Linked DNA regions of Homo sapiens: region 2 is linked to region 1. The links come from fine-mapping of genetic effects on gene expression. Tissue or cell type: whole blood. Region 1 holds a variant in brackets; the other region holds the start of a gene. All regions are shown on one strand. Distances are between the middles of the regions.

Region 1 (2,763 bases):
GATTGATTTAAAGGCATTCATTATTTATATTTTCTTTTAGTTCTATTATAAAGGAAGTTGGGTGCATTTTCCCAAAAACAACATTAAGGGTTGGAGCTGCCTGGGGAAAGTGTCATTTATCCGTAGAAAATATTCTCTAGGAACCCTACATCATAACCCTTTTCCTCTAATTGAACTTGGGAATACTAATTAAATGAAAACTTTCTCCAGTAAACTAGGCTTTACATATGGATTTGATGGTAAGGAAAGCCAAAGTTGTAAAAGCAGAGTTGACAACTCTAATATATGGATATCTTTTCTTTCTGAAGCTTCTTTTCCACTTTATCCTCTTTTCTTTTATATCTCCCTTTCCATCAATTCCTGTCTGACTCTGTATCTCACCCTTTCCAAAGCCTGCTACCATGAGAATGTAAGGTTCAGCTGCTTTCAGATCCGTCATTTTGCTGAGGTGGAGTGAGATGGAGACAGCGCCACCCTGGGCAAAATGAGAATTGACAGCCCTCCATCCTATTCCTAAAGACAGCCCTGCATCCTATTCCTAAAGTCAAAGCTTCTATTAAGCGCCATCCAAATGGAGCAATATCACCCTTTGCTCTGCAAAAATTCAGACATGTTGTCTTCTTCTCTCCTTTTGTTTCTGTCCCAGCTTAGGAAGGAAGGTTGGCGGCGGTGAAGAGGGAAGAGGATGATCTAGTAATGGGCTCTTCCAAATCGCATCTGGTAGGTTCATAGCCATGAGTCAGCCACCAATCGGGGGCGCTGCCCCTGCCACAGCAGCAGCTTCTCCCGCCGCTGCAGCCACTGAGGCTCGTCTGCACCCGGAGGGCAGCAGCAGAAAGCAGCAGCGAGCTCAGTCACCCGCTAGACCGAGGGACAGTTCGCTGCGACAGACAATCGCGGCCACCCGGTCCCCAGTGGGGGCCGGCACTAAACTCAATTCTGTTCGGCAGCAGCAGCTGCAGCAGCAGCAACAGCAGGGTAACAAGACCGGGAGCCGCACGGGGCCGCCCGCCAGCATCCGAGGAGGCGGAGGTGGGGCCGAGAAGGCGACGCCCCTGGCGCCCAAAGGGGCCGCTCCGGGAGCTGTCCAGCCTGTGGCTGGTGCTGAAGCGGCCCCCGCCGCGACCCTGGCCGCT[T/C]TGGGCGGCAGGAGGCCCGGACCGCCCGAGGAGCCGCCTCGGGAGCTAGAGTCCGTGCCCTCGAAACTCGGGGAACCCCCTCCGCTCGGAGAAGGGGGAGGAGGGGGCGGGGAAGGAGGAGGAGCCGGCGGCGGCTCCGGGGAAAGGGAGGGGGGCGCTCCGCAGCCGCCGCCGCCCAGGGGCTGGCGAGGGAAAGGCGTACGCGCTCAGCAGAGGGGCGGCAGCGGCGGGGAGGGGGCCTCCCCTTCTCCATCCTCCTCTTCTGCGGGCAAAACCCCAGGAACCGGCAGCAGAAACTCCGGAAGCGGCGTTGCGGGGGGCGGCAGCGGTGGTGGAGGGAGCTACTGGAAAGAAGGATGTCTGCAGTCTGAGCTCATCCAGTTCCATCTCAAGAAGGAGCGGGCGGCAGCGGCGGCGGCCGCGGCTCAGATGCACGCTAAGAACGGCGGCGGCAGCAGTAGCCGCAGCTCCCCGGTGTCTGGCCCCCCTGCCGTTTGCGAGACCCTGGCCGTCGCCTCCGCCTCCCCAATGGCGGCGGCGGCGGAGGGCCCCCAGCAGAGCGCAGAGGGCAGCGCGAGCGGCGGGGGCATGCAGGCGGCAGCGCCCCCTTCGTCGCAGCCGCACCCGCAGCAGCTCCAAGAGCAGGAAGAAATGCAAGAGGAGATGGAGAAGCTGCGAGAGGAAAACGAGACTCTCAAGGTGAGGAGGGTGGGGGGACCCGGCTGGGGGATGGGAAGAGTGGGCCTGGGAGGATTAGGGCGTGTACCGGCAGGGATCAGAGGCTGCTAACCTGTTAGGGAGCCTTGAAGAGGGAGGAGAACAAGAAAGGAGGGAGGGGGTTTCCTAGGCCTTGCCGGAATTTGAATCTGCTCTCAGTAACGCGAGGTTTTCATTTAAATTCAAATCTGGGCCTCCGTTTCTCTAATTATAATGGTTTGTCACACTTCTTCCTGGAGAGAGGTAGAGTAAGAGAACGAGAGAGGGCCTAAAGTGGGCCTTTTTCCCCCAGTTTCCTCTTCTGTACTCAGCTCCTTGTCACTCCTGTCTCGTGGAGAGAGAGGGCAATTAAAGCTGAGAATTTGGAATTGGAATGGGGTGTGTACGGTGTGTGTCGGAAGGGCTGGAAGCGAGTTTGATTTTGACACGCGGCCTGTCACCGCCTCAGAACGAGATCGATGAGCTGAGAACCGAGATGGACGAGATGAGGGACACTTTCTTCGAGGAGGATGCCTGTCAACTGCAGGAAATGCGCCACGAGTTGGAGAGAGCCAACAAAAACTGCCGGATCCTGCAGTACCGCCTCCGCAAAGCCGAGCGCAAAAGGCTCCGCTACGCCCAGACCGGGGAAATCGACGGGGAGCTGTTGCGCAGCCTGGAGCAGGACCTCAAGGTCTGCGGCGCGGGGGCTCAATGGCGCGCGGCAGGGGCGGTGGGTGGGGACTTTGGCCAAGGGCTCTTTAGGCTGAGAAGTCTTCAGTGGCGACTGGCAAGGAGCCTTAGGGACACAGTTTCGTAGCGCTAACCACAAAATACTAGGGTCTCAGAAGGGAGAGAACTGGCAGGTGGCTCTAAAGAGTGCAGAGTGTGTGGAGGGCCTGGCAGCAAACGAGCTAAGTGTGCTCTCCTG
Region 2 (2,763 bases), 57 kb after region 1:
AGTGGTGGCAGCAGAATTGAAACTTAGATCTCTATGACAAAATTCCATGGTTTGCAATCAGACAAAACAGTTCAAACCCGTTTCCTCCACATGGGTGCATTTCTATGAACTTTTGCATGATGCTTTACCACAATGAGCCTTGCTTGGGTTTTATCAGTAAGATCAGATTATCAGTATCTAGAGACAGAATTGCTCTGAGGGTGAACTCAGATAAAGGTCTGTTCAAAGTACTTAGCACAGAACCTTGCAGAGGGTTGCCCCTCAGTGAATAATCACTATTATTACTATAACTATCACTGTTATTGTTGTTATTGCTGTTGAGATTATGATGTCAGGCTTTCCAGACACAGAGTATGGTTTCATTTGATTGTCCTACATGTATTAAAGTCCTACTGTGAGCAGGTTACTATTACTAAACTTTAGCTCCTCATGAAATGTTTATCTGGAAGCAGGTGAAAATAATGTGAGTGAATATGTATTACTTTAAAGACCACACCAGGGAAGCTCTTCAGACTTGAAGATAAGACCTTATTGTTTAAACTTGTGTATTTGCTAAGTTAGGCAAAAAATTGCTCTAGAGACTTTTTTGACTAAATTAAACCAAATATCATCAGATGCATGTGTGTACAAAGCCACAATAAACCTGAAAATGTCGCTGGGGAGGCAAGATCTCCTAGCATTTCAGAACAGGCTGATTTGATCATGATTTAGAGAGCTTTTCCATACACTTAGGCTGCTTTCTCTTCCTATGGCTGCAGCACACTTTAGTGGAAAATAAGCCCATAGGTATCTCATTTTTGGGGTGTGTGTGTGTGTGTGTTTTGTCCTCCCACAATAAGAAATCTCATCCTTTCCCATGGGCTCTGATTTTCTCTAACGTAAAGACATCGCTACTACTGTAGATAAAAGCAACACACTGTCAGAATCACAGAGAGCTAAGAGGTTGGACTTTATGTTCCATTTCTATTTTATTTGAAGATAGAAGTTTGATAACTTTCACAGATCTTTTGAGAGTGCATAATATATATAATTATGCTACACATATTGTTCTGCCACATCCAGATGCAAACTTCTAAAGGTGCAGCAGAGTACATCCTGCCACCAGCTGAGAAGGAGAAAGAATTATGGAAGGAGGGAGATAATTCTTGCCTATAAAAAAATGAGTTTACTTTCCTAATAAAATAAATCTAAAATTGGCCATTGTCATTGTATGATGTTAACAACCAGCTCTTTTGGCAAGTTTGAAAATACTGGGCTCCATTATAAAAGCTAAAAATGTCCTGGACCTGGAGTTGTTTACCCAGAGCATGAGCTGCTCTAAAGTTACAGAGCTCTGGTTGGAAGAGGTGGCTTGAAGGCCGCCTCCAAGTAACTGACGTCACAGTAGTCTCAGCTGCTGCTGTGACACTAAGCTGAGCAGCTTTTTGACTTGTAAAAGTGGTGAAGGTTTCAAAGGGACTTGTCAGTACTGCTCTGTGGAATGGTTGGACTTATTTTGCATCCCCTTTTCTTGTAAAGAATCGAGATTCACCGAGCTGAGACTTTTCTCTTTAAGACAGCTAGCCATCCACTTTCTTCCACTGCTAATTGACCAGTGGTCGAGCATCCATAGGATTTCTCCCCAGTGTGAAAGGTATGTTTCTTTCCGGCAAGTTTACAAGCAAGTGACTAATTATGGCAGGATACAAAGGGGCTGCTGTTGAGATGTTTTAAACTATGGATACTGTTTAAGTGGAGTGTAATTTCAACATCTGTCTCTGCTGTTGTCTGTGTCTGGGCTTAAAAACAGTGGGCGGGGTGCATAACAGATTGTACTGACTCCTAGGAAAAAGGCTGTTCAGCTGCTCAGGGTGGATTTCCCAACTGTGGACTGACAGTACCATCCGCTCTTTGAGACTGTTTTTCCAACACTGCTTCTCAGTTGTTTGAAAAGCACTTTGCCCATCATTGATTTTCACTAAGTATATTTATTCAAATGTGATTTTTTTTATTCATATAAAGACTTTTAACATTTGCAAATTAAAGGTCACAATCCTGGAGACTTGGTATTTGAAAATTGCGGTGAAAAATAAATTTTAGTTTTATCTAAGGTGGTGGTGGACTCACTGTAGAGTTAGTGTTTCTGTAATTTGAGCTGAAGTCTATGCCATTCATAATTGAATAATCTACGTTTAGGAGGGAAACTTACCACTATGTCTTTTGTTCACGATGGTTAGTTTTAGACATTTGTTTACTCAAACCAAATGTTTGCTTTTAAAGTTTGCATTTTATAAGTAAAATCAGTGTGCATACAGCTTGGATGTTTTCTAATTTGAGTAAATAACTGTAAAGAAAACAAGGAAGAAGATAATTAAATGAAACGGTAAAGTTGATTCATTCGGAATTGCATGTGGTAGTGTCTCTTTGACCTTGTTGGAGCATGAGGAATGTGCTAAATCAGCAATACACAGCAATGAAAAAAATTTCCCTTTTACTCTAACAAAATCAAATCATGGTGGTCTTTGGAAAGATTCAATTGCAAGTGAACAATAGAGAGGAATGAGATTTATTAATTCATTGAAATAATTCAAGTGATTATAATAGCCTGGAGAAAGGGATAGAGAATTTAGGAGGTAAATGGTACATTACTCTGATAGGTTATAAGCTGGGGAATTCCTAATCCATCAAAGTTAAGCAGAAGCAAAACATCTTCAGGCCAAATGAGTCTTCTAGGAATTGTGAGATTAGCAGTACCTACTGTGTGTGGCATTTCTATTGGAATAT

Evidence for each region. PIP is the estimated chance that this variant, and not a neighbour inherited with it, causes the effect. A credible set is the group of variants that fine-mapping cannot tell apart.
Region 2: KIAA0408 starts here. The variant in region 1 is the best candidate, but not a certain one, in a credible set for the expression of KIAA0408 in whole blood (TOPMed, PIP 0.62).

What each region holds. Positions count from the first base shown.
Region 1 is chr6:127,514,586-127,517,348 of GRCh38, reverse strand. It overlaps MTCL3 (MTCL family member 3), which reads left to right. Exons shown (of 7, transcript NM_001400265.1): 2 at 647-1,835; 3 at 2,302-2,526. The coding sequence starts at 735. It overlaps SOGA3-KIAA0408 (SOGA3-KIAA0408 readthrough), which reads left to right. Exons shown (of 13, transcript NR_174482.1): 2 at 647-1,835; 3 at 2,302-2,526. LOC107986642 (a long non-coding RNA gene) reads right to left here. Exons shown (of 2, transcript XR_001744337.2): 2 at 2,049-2,763. Among named protein-coding and RNA genes, the nearest start is that of MTCL3, 3.4 kb to the left of the region's middle. RefSeq lists a silencer at 1,101-1,330 and an enhancer at 2,018-2,542. The variant T/C (reference allele first, on the strand shown) is at 1,137.
Region 2 is chr6:127,458,045-127,460,807 of GRCh38, reverse strand. It overlaps KIAA0408, which reads left to right and starts at 1,419. Exons shown (of 6, transcript NM_014702.5): 1 at 1,419-1,633. The region is part of intron 7 of SOGA3-KIAA0408 (SOGA3-KIAA0408 readthrough); the gene reads left to right.